Homo sapiens: one gene and its partners. The protein of the gene in region 2 interacts with the protein of the main gene of each other region in a pairwise test. Each region holds a gene or a part of one and is shown on either strand. Other genes may lie near its edges. The genes, in order: SGMS2, GPX8, DNAJC30 and SMAGP.

Region 1 (7,268 bases), on a different chromosome or scaffold from region 2:
AGTGACGCAATCTCAGCTCACTGCAACCTCCACCTCCCAGGTTCAAGCGATTCTCCTGCGTCAGCCTCCCGAGTATCTGGGACTACAGGCGAGCACCAACATGCCCGGCTAATTTTTCTATTTTTAGTAGAGATGGAGTTTTACCATATTGGCCAGGCTGCTCTTGAACTTCTGACGTCAAGTGATCTGCCTGCCTCGGCCTCCCAAAGTGCTGGAATTACAGGTGTGAGCCACTGCACCCAGCCACACAGCAAATATATCTCAGTTGAGCTGAGCTGACCCTTCAGATTTCATTTAAACAAGCTTGCTTTGAATATTTAAAATTATTTAAACTGAAGAGCTATCACTTGTCCGTAATATTTTACTGTGTAAAGCAAGGCATACTTTTATTATTCGGCCTCATAAAGAATTTACGAGCCCCTATTCAAGACCATTCAGAATGCCACCAGATCTCTTATTATCAGTGGGAGGCAGCCTATGACGGCCTAATCACTTCTTGTCTCTTCCCAAGTCCCCAGCACTCTCCTTTTTTGACTCCTTTTTTCCCCTCTTGATAATCACAGCCTGAGGTCTCTACTGGACTATAAGCTTTGGGGTAGCAACTATCTCCTTCGTTTGCATTGCTGGCCCCTAGCACAGTGGCTGTTATGTAGTTGTTGCATACTAAACGTTAAGCAAATAAATATCTGATACTAGTAGTTCAAGACAAAGCCTTCAATTTCTCCATTGAGACAACACGCTAAAGGTGGGTAAGTCATTGTTTAGTCTAAAACTGTCCAAAACTCTCAGTAATTATTCCTTTAAAAAAGAAACATCTCACCTCAAAGCATCACTTTTAAAAAAAGTTCTCACTGATACTCCATTGTCTATTTTAATAGTTCTAAGATTATTTCTATTTTTCCCCTATATTTTGTTTAAAGTCCCACAAAAATCCCAAAGAGTTTAAGTAAACTTGCTCAAAGGAACACAGCTCAGAGAGCCTCAGGTCTCCTGGATTCCCATGTCCATGATCTCACTACACGGTACTGTCGTAGGACAGCTCCCAGATCTTTCACCCTGTAAGTTGTTATAGTTATGGTAAGAGCAAATGTCTTCAATAACGTGCACAAGTGCTAAAGTTTCTTCCAAACATTTCCTAGGGCTTTTATGAGATTCTGCGAGGGGAGAAACTCAGAACAAGGTGCAGCCACCTCAAGGTGTCCAAGTGTTTCCCTCTAGGTTCACAAGTCAACTAGCTTTACTTAAAAATGAAACCAAAGGAACCAAATTAAACATTAACTTGTTAAAAAAAAAAACACTTCAACCAGACTATTGTGAAGTAAGAACATTAGAAGACCAAGGAAAGGGCCATAAAGAGGAAATTTTGCACTGCTTGCACTGCTTCTTTAGGAAAAAAAAAAGGTAAAGGTAAAGTTAGCTTCCTCACGTCCTTTCTTCCTGTAAATTCCAGGTTGTCACTTTCAGCCATTGCTCTGACATTGTTTAAACAGTAAATGGCAGTTCCCATGACACAGGATGGAAACCATAACCTTCTCAGGTATCCGTACTAAAAATGTTTAACTTGCTGAAAACATCACTTCCCAATCTAAGGAACTTGCCAAAGGATTTCACATGCTAACCCTCGGCCCACCAGGCTTATAAGGAGGACATTCTGTGGAAATTAATTGGTTATTACCTAAGCCAGCTGCAACACACTATTATTTATATATAAACAGCTATAATTTGTTGGGGTCTGCTTTGTACCAGACATTATGAGAAGTCTTTTGCGCTTTAATCCTCATTATTATCCTCATTATTAATCCTTATTTAATCCACCTTATTATCTGAAGTAGCTATAATCCCATTTTACTGGTTCAGAATGTTTAATGTGCCTGAGCACCCACCGTTAATAGAGGAGACTGGTAATGAAACCAAGGATTTGAAAAGTTAGGTACAGATTGAAAACCCACGCCGAATCCAGTGACACTAAACAGTTGAATCTCTTCAAAATATAACACACATGTCAAAATGATTTTAAGGTCATTTCAGAGCAGGCAAGACTTGAAATAGAGGACCGGCAACATTAATAAATAAAAAAGACTACAGGACATAACATTTTGAGTTGGTTTCAAGCCGTGGATAATTAATGATTATCCATACCTCTGGATGGATGTTGACAGGGGTTCCCCGCCCCTTATTTTCGCTGAGAAACCAAGTCTTCCCTTCCGTAAAGGGAGCAGCTCTGGAATGCCACACGTTGAAGGGTTTCGGTGTGGGCTGCCCAGAGCTGGGCTGTTACTGTTCACACATCATCAGTAAGTGCCTCTCAAAAAAAAAAAAAAAAAAAAAGAGAAAGAAAAGAAAAACCACACACACAAACACACACACACAGTCCCTCCTCCACCAACTGAACTTCAGCCCTGACCTCCGGAGTGGTTCTGGACAATCTGGGGTTTAACCTGTGCCCTTCCAACGCCAGGACCGGGGTACCCGAAATGGGTTGCAAATGAATGAGATGACTGCTCAGAGGAAGGAGACTAAGGCACACATCTCTCCTCCAGACCACAAAATCGAGGAAGCATGCCCTGGGCGGGGAGGGTGGGGGCCGGATTAGAGCCACGTCCCCGCTTCGCAATCCACCTTTCCCCTCCCGCGCTTCGGAGGACTCTCCGCTCCCCAGCCCATCCTCCTCCTGGCCCCTCCGCGCGCTCCTTACCCGCTGGTGGCCAGGGCTCCAGACACTCCCAGCTGAAGGCACTTGCTCCCGGGAAGGGGATTTGCCAGGGGATGGAGCCCGCTGCCGCAGCCGCCGCGACCAGCCCCGGGCGTCACCACCCTCGGGCCGAAGCCGCTAGAAAGTTTGCTCGGGGTCTCGCCCTCCCACGCCGCGGCCTGACTAGGGGAAGCAGCTCTCCGGGTCCCTCCCGCGGCCGCCGCCCCCGAGGCCGCACTCGGCGGCGCTGCAGCACCGGCCAGGCTCCGTGCGCGCCGAGGGCTGGGTCTCCCCGCCCCACTCGGCCCACGGCGCGGCGCTCAGTGTTGACCGCGGCCCCGCGCCCGCTCTCCCCGCCCGCCGCGCGCGGCCCGCTCCCTGCGCCCTGCGCCCAGCGCGCTCTTGACATCATTCATTCTCTCACACCCTCGCCCGCCCACTCCATTTCCAAACAGTGACTCACCCGTCGGCCCGGTGGCAGCAGTGCCCGTTCCTGCTGCCGTGGCTCTCCTGGCGCAGAGTGGAGCTCGAAAAACCTGCGCGACTTCTTAAGAAGAAAATCCCAGCCGACTCTCCCCTCGCGGCTGTTTAAGGTGCAGAGAAGGAGGGGCTTGGCAGGCAGGGCAGTTTGGCTCCCGGCCGAAAGGCTGAGGGCCTGGAGCTGACCTCCCTGAGCGGCAACAGAGATCAATCTGGGAAAGTTCTTTGGGTGCCACTCCCAGCAACTTTCAGGGGTGGGGCTGGAACGGGATCCCCCACCCCCGCACCCGGCCTGTTTCGGAAACTGCTTCCTGACGGCGTGTGAGTGGGCTTGGGAGCGCCAGCGTTGATTCAGAGGGTTTATCGGTGTTGACCGGGCCTAGGTCAAAGAGGTGGGTTTCCAAACCTCACAGCGTTGCCTGGCAAGGTTAGTCATCAGTCCGCATGGTATGAGCTGGAAGGTTGCTCCAAGCTAATGAGGTGGCAGCACTGTCCCTTTCGTGCCTAACCATCGTGTCATTTGTCCTGTTAATTGATTTACTTCTCACTTAAGGAATCGTAACCAAAATAAACAGTGTAAGTAGTTATTTGCTTAACTGAATACTGCGCTTTTCCGCAGCTTTTGGGGCCCAAGGCAGCCGTGTGGTTTCTTCGAAGGCCTCAGTAGTTTTTTAAAAGGGGGATTGCTGTCTTTAAAATGGTAATGGTTCTACATTGTCCTGGAGTTGCTATTCATACACCTGCTGGGCAGTTTTCAAAGTAAACGATGGCAGCCTCAAGGACTCTAACTAGGAATGACCAATCCGAGGGAATGTGGCTAAATCTTTCTTGACATAAGTTTTACATTAATGTCTCCTTCTGGACAAGATAATTATGTTTAGGATTTGCGCTGGTTTATGGGTGCTTCCATATAATCAACAAAAATAATGACGGGAATCTTTGGGTTTCTAGTGCAGATATCATGTGGGTCAACAGTCATTTGTGGCTATTAAAGATGATGGTAACAGAAAAGAATATACAAGGCAGGCAATCCCCAAACTCGCAACTTCAAGATGTCGTCACAGTACAGGCAACCAAAGAAAATGGACAAATGGGATCATATTAAGCTAAAAAGCTTCTGCACAGCAAAGGAAACAAACTGAAGAGACAACCCACAGAATGGGAACTATCCATCTGACAAGGGATTAATAACCAGAATATATGAGGAGCTCCAACAACTCTATAGGAAAAAAAAATCTAATAGTCCGAGTAATAAATGGGCAAAAGATTTGAATAGACATTTCTCAAAAGAAGACATACAAATAGCAAACAGGTATATGAAAAGGTGCTCAGGCAATAAATACTGGCGAGGTTGTGGAAAAAAAAAGGAACCCTTGTGTTTGTGGGAATGTAAAAAGTATAACCACTATGGAGAACAGTATGGAAGTTCCTCATAAAACTAAAAATAGAGATACCGTATGACCTAGCAATCTCACTGCTAGGTATATATGCCCAAAAAAGGAAATCAGTGTATCAAAGAGATACCTGCACTCCTATGTTTATTGCAGCACTACTCACAATAGCCAAGGTTTGGAAGCAACCTAAGTGTCCATCAACAGATGAATGGATAAATCGTTACATATACCCATGGAGTACTATTCAGCCATAACAAAGAATGAGATCCTGGCATTTGCAACAACATAGATGGAACTAGAGGTCATTATGTTAAGTGAAATAAGCCAGGCACAGAAAGACAAATTTCACATGTTCTCACTTATTCATGGGAGCTAACATTTAAAACAATTGAACTCATGGAGACAGTAGAATGATGGTTACCAGAGGCTGGGAAGGGTAGGGGGGATGGGTAATGGGTAAAAAATATATATATAGTTAGATAGAATGAATAAGGTATAGTATTTGATAGCAAAACAGGGCAACTACAGGCAACAGTAATTGTGCATTTTAAAATAACTAAGAATATAATTGGTTTGTAACATAAAGAAAGGATAAATGTTTGAGATGGTAGATATCCCATTTACTCTGATGTGATTATTATGCATTATGTGCCTATATCAAAATATTGTGTGTACCCCATAAATATACCTACTATGTACCTACAAAAATTAAATTTAAAAAAATTTTTTTGAGATGGAGTCTTGCTCTGTCGCCTGGGCTGGAGTGCAGTGGCTTAATCTCAGCTCACTGCAACCTCCACCTCCTGGGTTCAAGCAATTCTCCTGCCTCAGCCTCCCGAGTAGCTGGGATTACAGGTGTGTGCCACCAACCCTGGCTAATTTTTGTATTTTTAGCAGAGACAGGGTCTCAACATGTTAGTCAGGCTGTTCTCGAACTCTTGACCTTGCGATCCACCCTTCTCGGCCTCGCAAAGTGCTGGGATTTACAGACATGAGCCACTGTGCCCGGTCCCCCCAAATTTTTAAAATATAAAACCAAAAAAAGATGTTGTCACAATACAGAAGTTTCCCCCAAATGAAAATGCTCCTAAAATTAACCAAGGGCTCAACATCATTGTTGTGGAAAATGGACTCTTTTAGAGCTACTTTTAAAGGTTAGAACCCAGAGGAGACCACCAATCGAAAGTTATTGTCCTGGGGTTTATTTTTCCCCTTCAATAAGGAGCTCATTTTCAAATTTACAAAGCCCAGGCATTTTGCCCAGAAGGCAATAGCAAATGGATTGGTTTGCTAGGATGCAGTCAAAATTCAAATCAGCAGTTTTTATAGACAATCACAGAGCTAATTCAGAAGCATGGGTGTCCTATCCATTGGTAACACTGAATGACTAGATTCAAATGTATAGCCATCTATAAGTAAGTTTGCGTGAATATCCCACCTACTCCCTACTTCATGATCCAAATATTTGGACATTATGGGATAAGTCTAAATACAATTTTCTACAGATCTCAATTGATATTGTGGGCTTTTTGGCCTGTGTACATGGATAAAGTCAAAAAGCTCCAAACAAAGCTTGCAGTTCTGCCTGCACTGTTGGCTGATATAAACCCTGTAGTTCCCTCATAAGCCTCTGTGTGGAAGGCTGTTGAATGGGTAGTTTTGAATTAGTGGTTACTATTGTGCCTCAGTTTAAATATTGTGAAATAAGTAATTAGGTCATTTTATTATACCATTTAAATATCCCCAAGTACATATATTAAATAATATAATTGATAATGGATGATACGAAGTTTTTTCAATCTATTCATTATCAACATATGAGAAAGCAAATTACTCATCTTAATTTCTATGTTTTAAGAAATAGTAACATCCTTTTCACAGAAAGATGATTTTTTTTTTGTTTTTTAACTGCACCTTTTGTTCTTACCATGTATGAAAAGTGACAAAATTTGCAATTCATCACCTTTCAAAAATAATGGCACTGAGTGTTTCAAGGGAGAGAAATGGATGATAGATAAGTGTGTTCTTGTCCATTGTTTTCTCCAAGGCAGCATAAATCAAGTTTTACAGGTATTTCTTTGATTTGATAAAACATACTGATTTAGGAAAACATGTAGATCTATAGTACTTATTTCCTCTTACAGTAACTCGAATCTGAACATATCTAAAGTCATTTGCTCAACCCACAAATTTGTATTGAATTCCTACTTTGTGCCCATGGCTGTTTATCTAAGAATCTCCATGGTCCGGGCACAGTGGCTCATGGCTATAATCCTAGCACTTTGGGAGGCCAAGGCAGGCAGATCACGTCAGGCCAGGAGTTCAAGACCAACCTGGCCAACATAGTGAAACCCCGTCTATACTAAAAATACAAAAAATTAGCCAGGCATGGTAGCACATGCCTGTAATCCCAGCTACTCAGGAGGCTGAGGCATGAAAATCGCTGGACCCTGGGAGGGGGAGTTTGCAATGAGCTAAGATCCTTTCACTGCACTCCAGCCTAGGCAACAGAGCGAGACTCTGTCTCAAAAGAAAATAAAAAAGAAAAAGAAAAAGAATCACCATGTTACCTTCTAAACGAACATATGTCTCAGGAATTGAAAGGTTTTTCTTTTTTTAATTTTGCATGAGGATGTTTATTGCAGGATTTGCAGATCAGTTGGGATATGAGGATGAAGCCAAAGATGACTTCTATATTTTTT
Region 2 (7,956 bases):
AAGATTTATGTTCATTTTATTGACTAACATGAGGAAAAATATAATAATTATAACTAAAATTTATGAAGTGCTTACTATGTGCCAGATTAATGTACGCTCCGTGCTTCAAATTGATCCTCTCTTTTAATCTTACAGGGACCCTATGAGGTGGGTATTATTATCATCCCCGTTTTGCAGATGAGATAAATGGAAGCCTAGACACAAGGTCACGTGGCTAATGAGTGGTTGAGCCAGGATTGATATACGGGCCTTTTACTCCAGAGCTCATGCTCTTAACCTTTGGGCTCTATGATCCTTCCTATCTAAGTGGAATGACACCTTAACTCACTGTTACCTTTTTGATTACACAGGCTAAGAAGGGTTTTAGAAGGTTTGTAGTGATAAAGAGAAATAACCTATGAGCTATTGCACCCACGTATCTGGCTGCTGTAACTGAAGAATGATTAGTTCAATGGCATGTGCTTGGGCTTTTCTTTCCTCAGTGGACCTTCAAAATAAGAGGAATAAAGACCTCACTGTGGTTGCCATTTATGGCGTTAGGCATTATATCAACTTTCCCTAGAAATTAAATATAATGTTTTTAGAAGATTCTGACTTCACATTTATGTGAAATATTATAGATCACTATTTGGTTTGTTGGATTAGAAGCTTGATTGCCTGAGTGAGGTAATAGTTTGATCAAAACTCAACTTATTTACAGTGAAAATAGGACTGAAGATGTCATCAGAATAAGTTAGATGAGAGAACATTAGCTAATGTCCTTTATTTATTTATTTAAGATGCAGGCTTGCTCTGTCGCCCAGGCTGGAGTGCAGTAGCGCGATTTCAGCTCACTGCAACCTCTGCCTCTGGGTTCAAGCGATTCTCCTGCCTCAGCCTCCTGAATAGCTGGGATTACAGGTGCCCACCACCACACCTGGCTAATTTTTGTACTATTAATAGAGATGGGGTTTCACCATATTGGCCAGGCTAGTCTCTAACTCCTGACCTTAAGTGATCTGCCTGCCTCGGCCTCCTAAAGTGCTGGGATTACAGGCGTGAGCCACCGCGCCCGGCCTTTTTTTTTTTTTTTTTTTTTTTGACTAATATGGTTTAGAACAGTGTCTGGCACAGAGCAAGCAGTGTATAAGTACTTTATTTTTACTATTAACAGACTTAATTCCAAACAATCTTAAGAAGGCGGTACTATTGATAGCCCATTTTACAAATGAGAAACAGGCACAGAGAAGTTAAGAAGCCACATAGCAAAAACAAAAGAGCAGGGGTTTGAACCCAGGTAGCTTGAGGCCAAAGCCTATGCTGTCTGTATGCCTCATGACCTTTGTGCTAAGTGACCTTGGCAAGTCTTTAAACAGATTTCTGTAGCTAGCTTAATTGGAGAAATAGCCTAACACTACTGCCCTCTGAAAAAACCAAGTTATATGTTTTTGGATTTTAGCAAAAATCTGGTAAGCTGACATATTCATCTTTGAGAATATTGTTTCAGATAAGAAAGACAACATAAAATTAGCCACAAACATATGTTAACTAATAATGCCCAGCACTATTCATGAGAGCTGTGTGGCTATAATGACGGGAAGGGACATTTCTCCAGATGCTAGTTACAAGAGAGGAGAATTAAGATATTTTGTGAAAATAGCCATGGGCACACTTTAAGTAAATTCTTCAGGAAGATGGTAATAAGGAATAAAATATATTGGAATAGAATTCTTTTACCATCTAAGAAGCTAAAACATTGATTTCAGGGGAGCATAACTCCTAGAAGTTACAAAGGATGAGATTCTGGCTCTTTGATGATAGTTTTATGAAGCTTTCCCGATACAACGTTTCAAATGAAATAGGAAAGTATTGTCCTGGTATAATTGTTTAAAAATGAAAAGCAATTTAAAACAGCATATGCAAGGCAGATATTTACCAACAAGAAATCTAAATGCAGGTTCTCCTTCAGATCCTAGAATCTTAATCTTGTGGAAGATGGGGAAAGTTACTCCGTAGTTTTTTCTTGCAAAAGATTCTACTTCCTTGCTTGGGCGGGGCTCCGATTCTCCAAACTGATTGCAGGGAAAAGCCAACACGCTGAAGTGGGATGGTCCAAACTCTTTGTGCAGTTCCTTCAGCCCTAAGTAATTTCTGTCTGTGAGTTGGCAGTCACTGGCCACGTTTACAACTAGTGAAACCTCCCGGAAAAAGAAAAAAATCCAACCGGAAAGTGAAGCAAAAGATTTTAAAAAATTCTGCAAGTAGTTAAAATCCTAAACAATTTGGGGGGGACTATAACCTCTGATTGATGTTTTTTTCATATTTTTGGACATACACAGTTCTATTGAAAACTGTAACCTAGATGCCTGGGTTAAGGCCCTGAAATAGTACTGCCATTAAAAAAGCATTAGATACTCATGAAAGTTTATTTTTAAATTAAAGATAAAACTATGATCCTTGATAAGTTCTTTTTAAAGTTATTAGATTATAGAACCAATACTTTTATTAATAAATGTCATCATGTTCACATTACTAACTATAAGTATTTTCCAAACAACTTTACATGTCAATTCAGCACAAAATTAAAGCATTTTAAAGAAAACGAGATAATCGGAATTTATTATTTAGAAGCAAACTATCAGAACTGTAATAACTAAAGTGATGTACTAATACCATTACTCTGAAGACTAAATTCCAACTTATGACCATGTAACAGCAAAAAATTGATTTTATTAAGAGGAATAAACAGAGACAAGGAAAAATGATAACAATAAAAATCAGATGATGCAACTTACTTTGCCTTTATACTTTTCCAGAGAAACAGTTCTTCCTTTTGCATCCTTCACTTCAAAGGCATAAAAGCTGTTGATTTTAGGTTTGAGGAATTTTAGTTGTAGAAGAAATAGCGTTACTGTGCATAGAACTATAGACAGCAAAACTGCAAATACCTTTGCTCTGGGCCCGGAACATTTTAGCGGGTAAGCTGCAAGAGGCTCCATGTTGGAGGATTCTAGAGGGAAGTCTCAGCAGCCTGGAATTCAAGGAGGAGCTGAAACTTGAAACCGGCTTAGTTTAACGGAAAACCAGGAAGGACAGGCTGACTGCTTTCACTGCTAAGGAACAGAAAGACCACTTCTCAGAGGGGAAATGAAGCGAAACTCCTGAATGAAGCAAGGAGCTCTACAGAATTTCAAAGTATTTGTGATGTAATTATAATTTTTGCTAGAAAAATCAGGACATTTTTGGTAGGTCTTTGACATTCTCCCTACAAAGAAAATATTTCGCCAGAAGATGGTGCTCTTGTAACTCGAAAGCTACGGAGGGCTCATTCCCCATGCTAAGCTGTGTATTTATTGAGCAACTGTTTGGATGCAGAGGATGGAGTACGATGCTCAGCAATAGTTTAGAATGTAGATTAAATGTGACCTACTCATATGGTGTATACCCTGAAGGACGTTACTATTACATGTATGGGTTAAACATGCTATATGAGTTCAGGAAATTTATAGTGGAAAGAGCAGGGAAATATCTGAAAAAGGCTATTTACCCTGATTCATCTAGCTAAGGCAATCAAATACCAAGTGAATACAGTCAAAATAAATATGTTAAAAACAGTGAAGGTGTTAAAAGAAACCCTTCTCTATCATAGAGCAAACTATAGTCCAGTGTTTTTCAAATTTCTACTCATGACCCCCAGTCAGCAGTGCACTTTACAACATAACTGGGTACAAACAACACACAACTGAGAAACAACACTTCTCCTTTGAACTGTGATGCACCCCCACCTGTTGCATTTTTAAACAACCCAGTTCTGACCTATCAAAATGATTTCATCATTCACCGATGCACTACAACCTGTAGATGGAAAAAACTGAGGCCGGGCATGGTGGCTCACGCCTGTAATCCCAGCACTTTGGGAGGCCTAGATGGGAGGATCACTTGAGCCCATGAGTTCAAGACCAACTTGGGCAAGAAAGCGATACCCCTGTCTCTAAAAAAGAATTTTAATTAGCTGGTTGTGGTGGTGCATGGCTGTGGTCCCAGTTATACAGGTGGCAAAGGTGGGAGGATCGCTTGATCCCAGGAGGTTGAGGCTGCAGTGAGTCGTGTTTGTAGACTGCAGCCTGGGTGACAGAGTGAGACTATCTTAAAATCAGAACAAAAGAAGAAGAGGGAAAAAAGCAAAAATTGAACTCGATAATAAAGTAGTAATTTAACAGTTAAATAAGGCAATTCTACCAAAAAAAATCCCTGAAAACAAACAAACCCTGCAAAACCCACCTCTACTTGGGCACGTCATCTAATTGCTTCGTTTTTTCTCTTTATTTCCCTCCCCTGGCTGTTGCCTGGCACAGGGGGCCTAACTTTGCTGTTGCTAACGGTCATGAATTTTAGGGGTAGGTATGGGGAGGCAATTGAGGGCTGTATATCCTAAAAGCCATTCACTTTCAATTCTGCTCTGTTTAAGACTCATGGCAAGATCTGGATGAAGGGGCATTATGCCATTTGATCATGATGTGTTTCCAGAAAGTGCAGGGAATGAGCTGAGATGTTTGTGGAGTGCCCTTCCTGTCACTGTTAGCTTGTGGAGCTTCAGAGAGGGTGCTCAGGGTGCTGCCTGCTCTTCTGGTTCCCGCTCTGTGGCATGTGTGTTTTCGGGTGGCTGAGCAAAGCCCATAGCCTACTGTGTAAAACTTGTGAGAGGAACCGCTCGACTCCTACTCTCATGGCTCAGTAAGAATGGATACAGTAGAAAAAGCAATGATTATGCAGAAAGTATTCCCTTTTAAACATAATTCCTAGTAAAGAACAAAAATGTATGTAAGATGTGTTGTATCACTTCCTGATAATTTTACTTTGGTGTTCTCTGGCTGAATTGTTTAAAAAGTCAAAGTCCCTGTGTTTATATGACATGAACACTGCTATGTTGCTTAAGCTCTCTGGCCTTGCTCTCTAAGTGGGATCTGGGACCTTCCACAGTACCATCACCTGGGCATTTGTTAGAAACACAGCATTTTGGGCCCCACCCCAGACTTCCCGAGTCAGAATCTGTACTTTTACAGGATCTCCTCATGACACATACACACGTTTAAGTTTGAGAACCTTTAGACCTCAAACTTTTTTTGGTTTCAGAGCAACAAGAGTCTTTGGTTTGTCTTTGTTTTCCATAGTGGATGTGTTCATGTCTCTATGAATACACGAGATATTTTAACTCCTCAGGCTGTACAAGCAAATGGCTTAGGAACATGCATTTTAAAATTAATTCATAGAATACCTGCTGTAATTTGAGCCGTGTAAACCCAAGTCATTATAACTGTGTTTTGAGGTGGAAAGAGAGTGATTTATCTTTGGCAGGGATGTTGACTGACCACCGCTTAGGCAGGGCCCCCTAGGGTGATATTATTTTGATAAAATCACTGTGATAGTTTCTAGTCCATTGTATTATAAGTACAGAAACTCTTATCAAGTGATCCAGAGATGAATGGATTTGAAAATGCCAAAATTATGCTGTTACAAACTTGCTTGTGATTGCTGAATAAGCCAGTTTTTACACCAGAAATAAAACATTATGCAGGCCTGATGTTGAGGTTGGTTTCACCACAAAATTCCATATTATATGAATACAACTTTGAAAACTTACGTGTATATCTCCTGTCAAGGATGAAATCAGAGCCAGTTTGTTAATTTAATGTTCCTAAGGCTTAAGAGCTTCAAATAATGAAGGCATGATATATAAATTTTCATACTGACCCATTAACCAAACATTCAGACAGCACTTTGGAGAACTTGTGCGCTGGACAGCATTGGATGAACACAGATTTTGGCCCTGTCACACCTCTTCTTTGTTGTTTTGGCAGTCTTTCTCTGCACACATTTTGATGTCATCATCTCTCAGCCTTCTGGGGATCCACCATTATTGTTTTCATGTTCTGTCTATACTAACTCTATTCTCAGACTATACATATATCAAAATGGCACATTTCTCTGCATAAGGGGTAGTATGTTAGAAAAACCACCAGCGCTCTTTCAGTAAATGAAGGAAGGCTTCTATAGGAGGAGAAGAGATTGATGAGTTCATGATGAAGGCAAGAGGAAGCTACTGGGTCAAGAAGGGCATAAAGTAGTTGACTCAGTTATCAACCAACTCAAGCACTGGAAAGGATACAAATAAGGTGCAAGGGAAGGAGCCAGCCTCATGCAACTGTAAAAGCAATTTTGGAAATATGAGAACACACAAGAAACGGAAGGATTACAAGGCAGTAAATAACTGAGTGCTAAATAAATGACTTATTTTTTTATTTATTATTATTATTTTTTGAGACAGAATCTCACTCTGTCGGCTAGACTGGAGTGCAGTGGTGCAACCTCGGCTCACTGCAACCTCCATCTCTTGGGTTTGAGTGATTCTCCGGCCTCAGCCTCCCGAGTAGCTGGGACTACAGGCACGCGCCAAAATGCCCGGCTAATTTTTGTATTTTTAGTAGTGATGGGGTTTCACCATATTAGTCAGGCTGGTCATGAACTCCTGATCTCGTGAGCTGCCCGCCTCGGCCTCACAAAGTGCTGGGATTACAGGCATGAGCCACCATGCCTGGCCAGTGACTTATGTTTTTAGAGAGCTTTATACTGCACACAATCTTCTTTAGTAGACACATTACCTTCTTCACAGTAATTCTTTGAAATAGGGAGCAGTTAACTCAGCCAAGATCACAGAATTAGTGAATGGAACAATGAAGAATAGAGTTTTGAACTTTCGACTTCATAACCAAAATTATTTCAACTTCATGAAACTGTTTCTGTGTAATAGGTGAATAAATTTATTTAGAAGAAAACATTGTAGGTGAGATGGCTGTAGTACTCTGGTGGAGGGGTCATATGGTTTGGCTGTGTCCCCACCCAAATCTCACCTTGAATTGTAATAATCCCCACATATGAAGGGTGGGGCCAGATGGAGATAACTAAATCATGGGGGTAGTTACCCCTATACTGTTCTTGTGGTAGTGAATAAGTCTCACGAGATCTGATGGTTTTATAAATGGGAGTTCTTCAGCACAAGCTTTTGCCTGCTGCCATGTAAGACATGCCTTTGCTCCTCATTCACCTTCTGCCATGATTGTGAGGACTCCCTAGCCATGTGGAACTGTGAGTCCATTAAATCTCTTTCCTTTATAAATTACCCAGCCTCAGGTATGTCTTTATTAGCAGCATGAGAACAGACTAATACAAGGGGTTTCATTCGTGAGGAGGCATTTTGTTTTATAAGAAATCACTGTATAAGCGCCCAGAAAGGGGAAGGCATGGAGAACACCACCAAAAGGCTTTTCTGTGTGTACTGAAGTTATCTGGAAGGGGCCACGGGAGGTCTGCAGAGCAGCAGGTCCAGATGATAGGCGAAGAGTCTTAGTGAAGGTAGCCTTGGCCAGCATGATGGAAGGAAGGGGGTGGGTGCTAAAGATGCTCTGTAGACCCTGCGGGCAGCTGCTGGCGATAGAGATAAAGGATGATGTTTACCTGAAAATGACCTTGACAGTGTGTGGGTCATATTGCCTACTAGGATGGGAGGGCGTTGAAAGTTCAAACATGAGACGATGAACATTTTGGTCTTCATGACTAATTTGAAATAGTATTGAGACCCTACATTTGAAACATCTTGTGGACAGAATGCTGCTGCATTGGGCTGGTGGTGGGTGGGAGCGGCACACACTCAGAGGTTAAGGAACGGGGTTGGGGTATGCTTCAGAGCTACCTGGGCTGTCTTTGCTACTTTTATCTTTCTCTTGAGGTTCTAGCAAGACTAGCATCGCCAGCAGGTCTTTTCTGGGATGTCTAGGTTTTTCCAACCCACTGGATATTTGTGTGTCAAATTATTTGTCAGTAGACATATTTGTTTCTATTTTCTCAGTTGTTTCATTCTGCTACTTCCTGACCTTATTTTTAACCCCTCTGGGTCCTTTTCTAATTATTTTTGGCACTGGT
Region 3 (6,857 bases), on a different chromosome or scaffold from region 2:
AACATAGTAACAATAAATGTTCTTTTAAAAAGTACATATCCCCTTCCCCCAAGTCCAGGCTCACTGAGCCAAACAGGTCTGAACCAGATTGGGCTCAAATCTTTTTTTTCTTTTTCTTTTTTTTTTTTTTTGAGATAGGGTCTAGCTTTGTAGCCCAGGCTGGAATGCAGTGGCAGGATCGCAGCTCACTGCAACCACGACCTCTCAGGCTCAAGCGATTCTCCCACCTTAGCCTCCTGAGTAGCTGGGACTACAGGCACTTGCCACACCCGGCTAATTTTTGTGATTTTTGTAGAGATGGGGTTTTGCCGTGTTGCCCAGGCTGGTCTCCAACTCCTGAGGTCAAGTGATCCACCCGCCTTGGGTGGATCCCAAAGTGTTGTGCCAGGCCCCAGATCTTCATTACTGCATCATATGATCACTGCAAAGCCTGGAGTAGGGGCATACCCCCAACCTCCGAGGCAAGAGACAATCAATGGTTTCCCTTTTTTTTTTTCCTTTTCAGGCTAGATTGGCACAATGATGGAATGGTTTTCAAGAGGCCAAGTAGGACCAGCTGTGGGTTTATCCCATTTTACCTAAGGATTTTACACAATACATTGAGTGCAGGAATGGCACGCAATGATTGCACTCAGTAATATACCAAACCACTCCTGGCTTTGTTTAGACCCTAGACTTGGGCCCTCATCCTTCTCGTAGACCTCTTGCGAGGATTTTCCCCTTTTACAGATTCACACTCAGTCCCGAACAGAAACACTTGAGCACCTACAATCTCACAGCCAACTCCCTGCCAACGTCCAGTGACTCACAGTTAAGAGAGCTTCAGCAGCAGCTCTGACCAAAGTGATGACCAACTACTTAACATGAATTAGAAACAGAGCAGAAAAAACACGCCTTTAGCCTGCTCTGCGTAAAGAACCAAGTCTCCACCATGAACACCAAGCCACCAACTCCCCGTCCCTCAGTAGTCCTGTGTACTCCCAAAGCCCCAAAATTTACCCCAGCCTCAAGCAGCCTTGTTTAAAAAATTAAGGAAGGGCCTGTGATAAGCACTGCAAGTTAAACAGAAACAGGGGACTTAAGTGCAGAGTTTGTCACTCTATTTCTGGGAGGGGATGGGCTGCACAGTGTGCAATGGGGCTGGCTGGTAAAGGGAGGACCAGGTGACAGCCAGCCACACTGTCTCAAGGATGAACCTGGCCCTGCTAGCATTATGCTGTAATCCCTGTGGATTAGAACTATGGATAATAGGGCCGGGAGCAGTGGCTCATGCCTGCAATCCCAGCACTTTGGGAGGCTGGACGGGCAGACAGCCTGAGGTCGGCAGTTCGAGACCTCAGTCTGGCCAGCATGGTGAAACCCCGTATCTACTAAAAATACAAAACACTAGCCAGGTGTGGTGGGAGCCTGTAATCCCAGTTACACAGGAGGCTGAGGCAGGAGAATCGCTTGAACCCGGGAGGTGGAGGTTGCAGTGAGCTAAGATCGCACCACTGCACTCCAGCCTGGGCAACAGAGCGCAAGACTCCATCTCAAAAACAAAACAAAACAAAAAACCCCCCAAAAACTATGGATAATAAAGCATGACAGACCTCAAGATGCCAAATGATTTTCTCCTCTGCTGTCATGCCTACAGAGTAACTTCTCCAAGGTCACACATTAAATATGGGCACAGGAACACTCATTCCTTATGCTCAATGACTTTTTCTCACTCCTACATGCTATCAACATAAGGAGGAGTGCCCCAGGGGGCTGACCTTAGCGGGAGGAACGACAGGCTCTCCACCGATCCCATTCTTACCCTGGACCAGGTCTCACCTGCGGCTTGGGGAAGTCACAGAAAGACAAGTTTCGTACAACCCCAGACCTTTTCTTTTGGTAGTCAACAATTGGTCACATTGCACATTTCAAGGTTACAGAGGCCCACCATACACATGCGGGGCAGGAGGAGATAAATCTTGCTTGGGGCTAAACAATAAAGCTACAGCGAGTGTTCCAGAAGTTGACCACATCTGGAAGCAAGAAGACAGACTCTGGAAGAAGCACCCTAGAGACTCCAGGAACCCCCTTCACTCCTGGGCTTTCGGGACTCTACAGCGTGGGGCCTCTTTCTCAGACATCGAAAGGCCTCCTTTTCTGGACCACAGTGGAGCGATGTGCAGGTCATCGGCTAAGCTGGGCGGGTCGGGGAGGGCAGGGGGAGTACAGTTCCTTCGGATCCCAGCAAAGGTAGACTATCAATGGCCAAGGGTTCAGAGGCAGGAAAAAAGGCCGTTTCTGGGGGGTTGGCTGGGGACACTCCCCTTCCCTTCTCTCTCCGATTAAATATAAAAGCCGATGATGATGAAGATTGAAAAGATGAGGAAAATGGCAGCCGTGTCTCGGGTATCCTCCCAGCGGAGGCCTTTCATGGACCGATACTCCTGCCGTTTGCGAAGGGCCTCCCGCCGGGCCCTCAGGCGCCGTTCCCGCTCCAGTTGTTCCCCGTAGTGGGCCTGGTAGAAGGCGTCAAAGTTGAACATCGTGCGGTTGGCGCCGGGGGAGGCCCGAGAACCGTCGTGGGTCCGAGAGGTGGGCGGCGGGGTACGCGGCGAGCCGGGGTCGGGTGCGGGCGTCCTGGAGGGCCGGACGCCAGGTCCGCGCAGGTCCTCGTCGCTGAGTAGGCCGCGATCATACTTGCGACGGAGGGTGGCACTGCCCAGCACCACGTAGGCCTGGGAGATGCGCGTGAAGCGCTCGGCGGCCTCCGCGCTCCCGGAGTTGCGGTCCGGGTGGTAGAGAAAGCACTGACGGTAGTAAGCCGCCTTGATTTGGGCCTGCGTGGCTGTGGAGGGGACGCCGAGCAGATCATACAGCGCCGTGCGCGAATACGAGCAGTCGCCCTGGGAATAAGTCCTCGCTCCTAGGCCCAGGCTGGGTGCAGAATTTTGTGGAAAGCCACGGGCCTGCAGCAACCTCCAAGGTAACAGCCGCTGCCACCATCGCCAGCGCATGGCTGCCATGTTGAATTGATTCGGCAGGCGGTGCAAGAGAAACCGGCCAATGAGAGGAGTCGGTTGGTCGCCCTGTGGCCAGTCACGTAAAGGGGGGGGCGGGGCGGTCGTGGGGGTGGAACATGCGTATTACTAAGCGGTCGCCGGGCTGATGACATAAAAACCGGGTGCCGGCAGGCGCCAGTCGCAGGTGTGCTGCTGAGGCGTGAGAATGGCGTCCCGCGGCCGGCGTCCGGAGCATGGCGGACCCCCAGAGCTGGTAAGTCCCGGGGCCCGCGGACACCCCTCTCCCCACTTCTGCGGCCACCGCGTCTGAATTATTCCTCTACATGCCATTTTCTCTTTTTCGCAGTTTTATGACGAGACAGAAGCCCGGAAATACGTTCGCAAGTGAGGGGAGCCTGAATACTGCGGGGCGTCCGGGGGTCGGGAAGCGGCAAGTTGCCCCTGTTGCTGGCGTTGCCCGGAAAGGCCGTAGAATTTGGGGGTGCGGGAAGGGAAGGACCCGGGTGGGTGCCGATTTCTGTCTCTGGTAAATCAACTTTAAGTTGCCGACCTCTCTGGGCCTCGGTACCTCAGCGTTGAGGTAGGGGTGATCGCGCTTGCTTTCCGTGGGTGGTTTTCAAAGTCGAATGTGACAATTTGTCCTAAACATGTGGTAAAAGAGGCGCTGGGCGGTGGGTACGGGCGAGGGGTCAGTCCTGGTGGGGGGAAGGAAGTAATGGCCGTAGGATGCTTATCGTGGCGCCTTGTTGCCAATAAATCTCCAAGACAGCAGTTGGTGTATTATTGTCTGAATTTCATAGAGGGTAGTTTGTATAACTACTGAGTTGTAGCCAGGTGGGAGTGGCTCACGCGTGTAATCTCAGCAATCGCAGCACTTTGGGAGGCTGAGGCGGGAGGATCGCTTGAGCTCAGGGGTTCGAGACCAGCCTGGGCAACGTAGCGAGCCCCCGTCTCCGCAAGTAATAAAAAAATTAGCCGGGTGTGGTGGCTCCCCTCTGCCTCTCCAGTAGTTGGGACCACAGGCGCGCGCCACTACGCCTGGCTTTTTTTTGTAAATTTTTGTTGCGATGGGGTCTCGCTGTGTTGCCCAAGGTGGCCCAAGCCCAGGGCTCAAGCGATCCTCCCGCCTTCGTCTCCCGAACTGTTGGGATTGCAGGCGTGAGCCAGCGCACCTCGAGTCGTTAAAAAAAAAAAAAAGGGGGGGGGATGGGGGCGGGGGGAAGCTGGCGCGGTGTCTCACGCCTGTAATCGCAACACTTTGGGAGGCTGAGGCAGACGGATCACCTGAGGTCAGGAGTTCGAGACCAGCCTGGCCAACATGGCGAAACTCCAGCTCTACTAAAAATGGAAAAAATTAGCCGGGCGCGATGGCGGGTTTCTGTAACCCCAGCTACTCGGGAGGCTGAGGCAGGAGAATAGCTTGAACCCGGGAGGGGGAGGTTGCAGTGAGCCGACATCACGGCACTGCACTCCAGCCTGGGCGACAGAGCAAGACTTTGTTTCAAAAAAAAAAAAAAAAAAAAAAAAAAAAAAAAAAAAGATACTTTGTGGTTTTTCCGTGCTCTCTCACTGAGAGACTAGCCCTATTTCAGTAAATGGTTACTGGCCGGGCGCTATGGCTCATACCAGTAATCCCAGCCCTGTGGGAGGCGGAGGTGGACGGATCACCTGAGGTCAGGAATTCCGAGACCAACCTGGCCAGCATGGTGAAATCCCGTCTCTACTGAAAATACAGATATTAGCCGGGCCTACGGGAGGCTGAGGCAGGAGAATCACTTGAACCTGAGAGGCAGAGGTTGCAGTGAGCTGCGATCGCACCACTGCACTCCAGCCTTGGCGACAGAGTGAGACCCTGACTCAATAAATAAATAAATAGCTATTGGATACTGTTTCTTTTTTTTAGGGACAGGGTCTCTCTATTGCCCAGGCTGGAGTGCCATGGCATGATCCCTGCCGACTGCAGCCTCAAGCCATCCTCCCCAGCAGCCGGAACTAGAGGCACTCGCCACCACACCGGCTGAAATAGCTTGATAATTTTTTGTGCGTGTGAGACAGGCTCTCATTCTATCGCCCAGGCCGAAGTGCTGCAGTGGCTGCAACCTCGCCTCCCGGGTAGTTGGAACTACAGGCGCGCCTCCTCGCGCCCGACTAGTTTGTGTAATTTTTTTGTGGAGAGGGAGTTTTGCTATGTTGCCCAGGGATCTGGTAAGTTGCTCACGGGATCCACCCGCCTTGGCCTCCCAAAGTACTGGGATTATAGGCGTGAGCCACCAGGCCCGGTCCTTGCTGATGACTTTTTATGTCGATTATATGTTGAAGTGATATTTTGAACATATTGAGTTAATGGAAATACGTTATTAAATATATGGGGTTAAAAATATGACTCCAGAGGCCGGGCGCGGTGGCTCACGCCTGTAATCCCAGCACTTTGGGAGGCCGAGGCTGGCGGATCACAAGGTCAGGAGATAGAGAAATCCTGGCTAACATGGTGAAACCCCGTCTCTACTGAAAATGCAAAAAAAAAAATTAGCCGGGCGTGGCGGCGGGCGCCTGTAGTCCCAGCTGCTGGGGAAGCTGAGGCAGGAGAATGGCATTAACCCGGGAGGCGGAGCTTGCAGTGAGCCGAGATCGCGCCACTGCACTCCAGCCTGGGCGACAACAGAGCAAGACTCCGTCTCAAAAAAAAAAAAAAATATGACTCCAGTTTCTTTTACCTGTTTCTTTAAGTTTCTTCTTGACTGGCTATTGGGAAGCCATGCGTGGCTCACATTCTGTTTCTCACAGACAGTGCTGCTGTAGGTTTTTGTGCATTGTTGATCCTTCTAGATGAGAGAAACTATGGAGAATAATTTTTGGAGAAAATGTTTTCAACAAGTGCTAGAGCAGCCCAGCCTAATAGAGTTGCAGATCCCAGTGGTTGTTTATTACTAGCTAAGTGATTTGCTTTTACACATCTGCTTGGCAGCTGGTGCAATGATAAGTTGTTACCACAAAATAACATGGTCCTGAATTACATGGAATTTTTGGGGTCACTTTCGAATGGTTGAATTTGTTGATCCCAACTTAGAAGGGGTCAGAAAAGAGTACCTCGGGATGATTGATCCGTTTTTTGTTTGTTTTTAACTTGGCTTTTTTTTGTTTTTTGTTTTTTGGTCTGGGGGAAGTATTCACCCAGAACTCCTTTACCATGTCCACTTGTGTTTCTGCCTTACCAGCTCACGGATGATTGATATCCAGACCAGGATGGCTGGGCGAGCATTGGAGCTTCTTTATCTGCCAGAGAATAAGCCCTGTTACCTGCTGGATATTGGGTGAGATTCTGGGGCCTGGTTCAGATTGTCTAAGGTGGTGAAGTGTCTTTGTAAACTGACCCTGAGTGTCTGGTCATGTCTTCCAGCTGTGGCACTGGGCTGAGTGGAAGTTATCTGTCAGATGAAGGGCACTATTGGGTGGGCCTGGATATCAGCCCTGCCATGCTGGGTAAGTATGTCCTGTCTGGCACCAGGGTGGATTACCCTGATGGGTGTGGAGAAGCCACAGGTATTTCTCTTTCTCTGACTGCCTTTTCTCTAATGTAGATGAGGCTGTGGACCGAGAGATAGAGGGAGACCTGCTGCTGGGGGATATGGGCCAGGGCATCCCATTCAAGCCAGGCACATTTGATGGTTGCATCAGGTGAGGGTCTTTAATTCCTGCTTTTATTTATTTAGAGACAGGGTCTCACTCTATCACTTAGGCTCTAGTGCAGTGTCTGTGATTATGGCTCACACTGCAGCCTCCACCTCCTGGGTTCAGGTGATCTGCCCACCTCAGTCTCCTGAGTAGCTGGGACTACAGGCCCACACCACCGTACCTAGC
Region 4 (7,032 bases), on a different chromosome or scaffold from region 2:
AGGAGGGAACAGGAAATGGCTTATCCTAACAGGAAGTGGTTTATCTGATCCTCCCCCTCTTCCTCACCCACTCAACCAACCACATATATCCTCGTCCCTACCCACGTACTCAAGTGTAACGTCCGTATGCATATCTATTTGCGGCCACCTCCCAACCTGTCATTTACTGGTAGTGCCTCTGACAGAAGCCTCCGAGTCTTTTATGGCTGTGTGTGTGTGTGTGTGTGTGTGTGTGTGTGTGTAATATAACTTACAAGCCAGAGTGAGCCCATTAATGGATTTGGTCAGGCTCCCTCTGGAGAGAGATGCCCTTGATCCAGAAGGTCCCTTGGAGTTGGCTCAGAGTCTATTACCTGCAATGAGTGCTGTGCTGGCTCCATCTTCTGGGGACAGGGCCTCAGTGGGCTGTAAAATTGGGGTGGTCATCAGTTCTTCTGGAAAATGTAGAAAAGTGGAAAAGGAAATGGAGTGAATTCTTTTGTTTGAAAGCATATGTTTGGCCTTCAAATTTCACCACCCCACCTTCTTCCCTATTCAAAAGTTTATCATTTAACTCCTAGAGTATATCCAAATAGAAAATCCTAGAGAATAAAGAAGAAAATAAACCACCACCCAAAGACAATATGTTGATGGATTTCTCCCTGCATAATATAGTGATTAAGAGTAGGGGCTATAGAGCCTGACAGACTGGGTTTCAAATATGAACTCTGTCCTTTACTAGCTGTGTGACCTTGGGAAAATTACCTAACCTCTATCTGCAAAATGGAGGTAAGAGTACCTACTTTAAAACGTTGTTGTGACATTTAATAAGTCACTCAGTAGGATAAGCCATTATTAGGAATGCATATTTTTACAATAAGTGAGATCAAATGAGTTGTATGTGTATATATTTACATTATATTATATAGCATGTGCATTTTCTTGCAGCATTCTTACTAATTCTTTGTAAACATTATTTTAACATAATGAAATAGTGCTCCTCTCCTATTAAAAACCCTTTTCTACACTTCCAGGATAGGCCCTGCAATTTGAAAGGTTCTGAAACAGGCCTCTCCTCTACCCTAAAATAGATCCTGCACCCCCTCCTGCTACGGGTTTATTTATCCTTCAGAGCGTGAAAGTCCCACCCTAAAGTCATTACCCAGGGACAGAACATGACAAAATGAGTGGTCTCCAGAAGTCCCTTTTAAGTGTTTACACAGGAAGTCAGGAAGCCCTTCCATTCTTTCCTATTAGCATTTTAATGTAGAGGTTACTGCAGGATAGAGGTCTCCTGGGGAAAACCAGCTGGCTGATCCTGGCAACACCCACAGGAGGCACCCCGACCTGACTGGCATCCCATAAACAGCAACACTCACCCACTGCCTCCTCTTTGCTAGGCCCTGTGCTAGATGAAAGGTCGAGCAAAACAGACACGGCCAGCTTCCCGAGGCTCACCCTCCACTGCACCCCACAGCTTGCACGGTGAGGAGCTGCTGTAAGTGCACTTAGGAAAGTGTGCAGCCGAGGGGCCTGATCTAGTCTTCCAGCCAGAAGCGACCCCCCAAGGGAGGAATATCTGACCTGGGAGCTGAAGCAGGGGTAAGAGTTTACCGGGTAACAGGGATGGGGCACATTCTAGGCAGAGAGAAGAGCCTGGGTCAAAGCTCTGAGACCAGGGGACTCAAAGGCCAGCGTGGCCCGAGCGCGGTGTGAGCATGACTCCCGTCCAGTGCCTGACACGTTCAGGTTTCCATCCACAGCAAGTGAAATGAGGGTATCAGTGGTGGTCTGGTGGGCCTATGCTAAGAGGGGCCAAGAGTGTTGAAGGGTCTTTCCACGCGGGCCCAGGGGAGCCTGATGAACCATCCTCATCTTGCAATACAGAAAGCAGAGGCAGGCTGTCCAGAGCGCTTCCTCTCCCAAGGCCAGGCCAAACCTTTCTCTCTGGTCCCCTCTTTGTCTAGGAATGGTAGTACCCTCAACCACTCTGGCCTTGGGCGAATGGTTACTGTGGTGTTTTACACACACACACACACACACACACACACACACACACTCTCTCTCTCTCTCTCTCTCTCTCTCTCTCTCTCTCTCTCTAGGTTTTCATCCAGTTCCTGGCTCCTAATTCCCACAGCCCGTTAGCCTTGTGTTATGATGTGGGTGTGTCACACCGCAGGAGCGGGCCTCAGGAAACAGCATCTCTCCAGCCTTCTCCTGCCCTTCCCTTCACCTGCCCCAAGGCAGGACTCTAATCTTCCTCTGCCTTTCCCATAGTGGGTCATAAGATCCTCATTCCAGAGGGAGAATTTGGGAAGGGAATGCTGACATCATGAAGCTTCCATTAAAAACCCAAGAGGACTGGCCTCAGAAAGCTTCCGCATAGTTGAACATGGCTGGACATGGTGGCTCATGCCTGTAATCCCAGCCCTTTGGGAGGCCAGGGTGGGTGATTTCCTGAGCCCAGGAATTTGAGACCAGCCTGGGAAACATGGCGAAATCCTGTCTCTACCAAAAATACCACAAAAAAAAAAAAAAAAAAAAAAAAAAAAAAATAGCCAAGTATGGTGGTGTGCACCTGTAATCCCAGCTACTTGGGAGGCTGAGGAATGAGAATCGCTTGAGCCCAGGAGGTGGAGGTCGCAGTGAGCTGAGATCGCGCCACTGAACTCCAACCTGGGGGATAGAATGAGACCCCATCCAAAAACAAAAACAAAAACAAAACCCCAAAAACAACTAGCTGAACATGCAGAAGTTCCCGGAGGGTGACGCACCAGGGAGGGCGTGGAAGCTCCGCCCCCCTCCCCACACCTCACCCTACACATGTCCTCATTTGTATCCTTTGCAATGTCCTTTATAATAAACCAGTAAACACATTGTTTCCCTGAGTTCTGTGAGCTACTCCAGCAAATTAATTGAACTCCAAAGCAGGGGTTGGCAGGGGTGGGAACTCCAACTTGAAGCTGGTTGGTCACAAGTTTTGGAGCCTGGACTTGTGACTAGTGTCTGAAGGGAGCTGCAGCCTTGGGGGCCCAGACCTTGGCCTGTGGTATCTGACACTATCTCTAGGTAGATAGTGTCAGAATTGAATTGGAAGACACCCTCTTGGTGTCTGCTGTGGAACTGCTTGCTTGCTTGCTGGTGCAGAGAAATTCTCAAATATTTTGGGGTCACAGAAGTCTTCTGTGTCAACTGTTGTGAGAGCTGAGGAAAAATGGTTTTAGAGTTTGTCTAGAACAGTTATACATTTTTTTTTTTTAAGATGGAGTCTTGCTCCATTGCCCAGGCTGGAGTGCAGTGGCGCAATCTCGGCTCACTGCAACTTCCACCTCCTGGCTCAAGCGATTCTTCTGCCTCAGCCTCCTGAGTAGCTGGGATTACAGGTGTGTGCCACCATGCCCAGTTAATTTTTGTATTTTCAGTAGAGACAGGGTTTCACCATGTTGGCCAGGCTGGTCTCGAACTCCTGGCCTCGAGTGATCCACCTGCCTCGGCCTCCCAAAGTGCTGGGATTACAGGTGTGAGCCACTGTGCCTCGCCTATACATATGGATTCATTCATCCATTCTCATCTGTTACCCACAGGAACTATATTAACCAACATTGCAGTTCTATTATGAAGATTAAATGAGAGAACATGTAAACATCATATAGTAGCTACTACTTAAATATTATTTAAGGTGACTTTGTTAATATGCTTAGTGATTAAAAGGGCCAGGCATGGTGGCTCATGCCTGTAATCCCAGCACTTTGGGAGACCAAGGTGGGAAGATCGCTTGAGGCCAGGAGTTTGAGACCAGCCTGGGCAACACAGTAAGACTCTGTCTACAAAAAAAAAAAAAAAAAAAATGTAAAAATTAGCCAGGTGTGGTAATATGCGCCTGTAGTCCCAGATACTCATGAGGCTGAAGTGGGAAGATTGCTTGAGCCCAGGGGGTTAAGCCTGCAATGAGCCAGCACTGCATTACTGAATTGTTGGGCAACAGAGTAATGAGACCCTGTCTCAAAAAAATAAATTAATTAAAGGGAGAGTTGCTCTGGGTTTGAATCCTGCCTAAGCATATTACTAGGTGACCTTGAGGAAGTTACTAAACCTCTCTGAACCTGGTTGTTGTTGTTGTTGTGTTTTTTTTTTGTTTTTTTTTTGTTGTTGTTGTTGAGACAAGGATCTCACTATGTTGCTCAGGCTGGAGTGCAATGGTGCAATCTTGGCTCACTGCGGCCTCAACCTCCTGACCTCAAGCAATCTTCCTGCCTTGGCCTCCCAAAATGCTGGGATTATAAGCGTGTGCCACCACACCTGGCAGTACCTCAGTTTCTTGATTTGTGAAATGGGAGTGTGGTGTACAGCTTCTAAGATGGCTCACAATGATTTCTGCCTCCTGGTATTGACATCTTTGAGCATGCCTCTCCTCTGGTATATGGGTTGAACCTGGTGACTTGCTTTTAACAGATGATGGCAAAAATGATGGCATGTAACTTCTGAGATTAGGTTATACAACACTGTGACTCCCATCAAAGGGAAGCCCTGAAGTTTATCTACCTGGTCATGACTTCACACATTTCACCATGCACTTTCCTCCCCAAATCGCCCAGGGCTGCAATCCATCTTCCTACCATGGATCTAGAGTTCTATACAGTTGTTCCTAGTTTTGCTTTCTTTAAACATTTTGAGAATTTAGGATGTACAAAGCATTGAGAAGATTAATGTATATCAGAAGCTTGAAGATGAGTAATTTGTGTTCAATCATCAACAGTAACTTACTTTGTACATTAGGTTTAGTGTGGTAGCTCACGCCTGTAATCCCAACACTTTGGGAGGCGGAGGCAGGAGGATTGCTTGAGGCCAGGAGTTTGAGACTAATCTGGACAATATAGCAAGACACCATCTCTATTTGTTTTTTAAAAATAATATATGGAGGAGGCTGGGTGCAGTGGCTCACGCCTGTAATTCCAGCACCTTGGGAGGCCAAGGCAGGTGGATCGCTTGAGCCCAGGAGTTGGAGACCAGCCTGGGCAACATAGCCAGACTCCCATCTCTACAAAAAAAAAAAAAAAAAAAAAGTTAGCCAGACATGGTGGCACACACCTGTAGTCCCAGCTACTCGGTAAACTTGAGGTGAGAGGATCACTGGAGCCCAGGAGGTCCAGGCTGCAGTGAGCTGTGATTGTGCCACTGTACTCTAGTCTGGGTGACAGAGTGAGACCCTGTTTCAGAAAAAAAAAAAAAAAGAATAAAGGTGGGAGGAAACCAGATGATCACAATTAAATACAGACAGTTGTGCTACAAAGTGCTTCTTTAACATGAACTGGCTCACTGGTGATAGGTAACTTAAGGGAACGATGTCAGTGTAATGCAGAAGTCATGTTGGTTTATATGTGACTTCTTTATTTTTAGTTTATTTTCAGTTATCTATTCTTTAATTTTTTTAAATTGAGCAGCCCCTAGAACCAAAAGAGGTTCAGAGGACTCCCCACCCTCTTTAGCTTTAATGTTTAACATGATCAGAAGCAAGCTTTCTCACAACTAGAGAATATTTTAGCCATACAGGAAGACCTTAAGAAAAAAATTCTACAGAATGCCTTGCTGCGATGCAGCTATTGGTCAGTTTCCACTTATATGAAGCCATCTGGTGAAGCAGAAAGTGCAGATGAAGAAAGGTGCAAAGAAATTTACCTCAATATTTAAACGATGACAAGAAGGCAGACTCTACATCAGATTTTTTTTTTTTTTTCCAGACAGAGTCTCGCTCTGTCACCCAGGCTGGAGTGCAGTGGCGCGATGTTGGCTCACTGCAACCTCTGTCTCCCAGGTTCTAGCGATTCTCCTGCCTCAGCCTCCCGAGTAGCTGGGACTACAGGCGCATGTCACCACGCCCGGCTAATTTTTTGTATTTTTTAGTAGAGACGGGGTTTCACCATATTAGCCAGGATGGTCTTGATCTCCTGACCTCGTGATCTGCCCGCCTCGGCCTCCCAAAGTGCTGGGATTACAGGTATGAGCCACTGTGCCCGGCCTATTATTATTATTTTTGAGGCCAAGTCTCACTGTGTCACCCAGGCTGGAGTGCAGTGGCTTCATCTCGGCTCACTGCAACCTCCGCCCCCTGGGTTCAAGCAATTCTCCTGCCTCAGCCTCCCAAGTAGCTGGAATTACAGGCATGTGCCACCACACCCGGCTAATTTTTGTATTTTTTAGTAGAGACAGTTTTGCCATGTTGGCCAGGCTGGTCTCAGACTCCTGACCTCAGGTGATCCGCCCTCCTCAGCCTCCCAAAGTGTTGGGATTACAGGCGTGAGCCACATCGCCCCCCGAAGGACAATTTAAAAAGCATTATATTTGCAACAAGAACAAAGAAAAAGCTAGGCTTCTTTGGGCCTGAGGGGTCAGGTTGGAGGTAACAGAGAAAGCAGAATTCCCTCAGGCCTTTTCACCTCTGTTTCCTATCAAAGAGAATCATTTTTTTGCACTAAGGAGCAGTGGAGCCTTTGGGGACATGGGGGAAGTGAGCTCAAGAGAAGCAAAGAAACCCAGCAAGCACCAGACTAATCTAAAAGGGACCAGATATGACAGCCAAAGGCACTGCAAGAACTTGTAAATGGGATTTCTGTTGGTGACATAGGAGCTTCTGAGAAAGAGAAAGGGGTCGGGAACCTGAAGGGGCCATGGAAGGAAGGTGGAGTCCATAAAGCAATGGTGAGCTTGATGTGACTCCCCAGCAAAGTTCTAGAACACACTATTACGGCCTGTTTGGGGGGCTTTGAACTCGAAACAGCAAGCATTAGAAGTCAGAATGGGACTACTGAGAGCAAGCTGGGTCAGATAAGCTGCACAGCCTTCTTAGACTGAGATTCCAGGTTCCTAGACAGGGAAATTAAACAGTTAGTTCAACAAGAATTTACTGAGTGTGTACTCTGTGCCAGGCTCTGGGCTTCTATCAGTGAACAACACAGGCAAAAACCCTTACCTTTAAAGTTCCTGCCAGGATTAAACAGAATTACCCAGCAATCTCATTGCTGGGTGGGTATGATCCCGCAATCCCACTTCTAGGTA

What was found.
Region 1: the proteins of GPX8 (region 2) and SGMS2 interact in binary tests that used the Homo sapiens proteins (3 or more experiments, as listed by UniProt).
Region 3: the proteins of GPX8 (region 2) and DNAJC30 interact in binary tests that used the Homo sapiens proteins (3 or more experiments, as listed by UniProt).
Region 4: the proteins of GPX8 (region 2) and SMAGP interact in binary tests that used the Homo sapiens proteins (3 or more experiments, as listed by UniProt).

Annotation. Positions count from the first base shown.
Region 1 is NC_000004.12:107,820,681-107,827,948, reverse strand, and holds the start of SGMS2 (phosphatidylcholine:ceramide cholinephosphotransferase 2), read right to left. Parts: upstream 3,018-7,268; 5' UTR 2,696-3,017; intron 2,278-2,695; exon of another isoform or gene 2,140-2,277; intron 1-2,139. UniProt on the Homo sapiens protein: Sphingomyelin synthase that primarily contributes to sphingomyelin synthesis and homeostasis at the plasma membrane.
Region 2 is NC_000005.10:55,155,215-55,163,170, reverse strand, and holds the start of GPX8 (probable glutathione peroxidase 8), read right to left. Parts: upstream 3,001-7,956; 5' UTR 2,979-3,000; coding exon 2,775-2,978; intron 2,181-2,774; coding exon of another isoform or gene 2,178-2,180; coding exon 1,916-2,177; intron 1-1,915.
Region 3 is NC_000007.14:73,680,422-73,687,278, forward strand, and holds DNAJC30 (dnaJ homolog subfamily C member 30, mitochondrial precursor), read right to left. Parts: upstream 3,033-6,857; 5' UTR 3,003-3,032; coding exon 2,322-3,002; 3' UTR 497-2,321; downstream 1-496. Other genes in the region: BUD23 (18S rRNA (guanine-N(7))-methyltransferase), read left to right, coding at 3,233-3,252, 3,346-3,480, 6,215-6,310, 6,397-6,479, 6,578-6,674. UniProt on the Homo sapiens protein: Mitochondrial protein enriched in neurons that acts as a regulator of mitochondrial respiration. Associates with the ATP synthase complex and facilitates ATP synthesis.
Region 4 is NC_000012.12:51,246,398-51,253,429, forward strand, and holds part of SMAGP (small cell adhesion glycoprotein), read right to left. Parts: intron 435-7,032; coding exon 354-434; intron 321-353; exon of another isoform or gene 1-320. UniProt on the Homo sapiens protein: May play a role in epithelial cell-cell contacts. May play a role in tumor invasiveness and metastasis formation.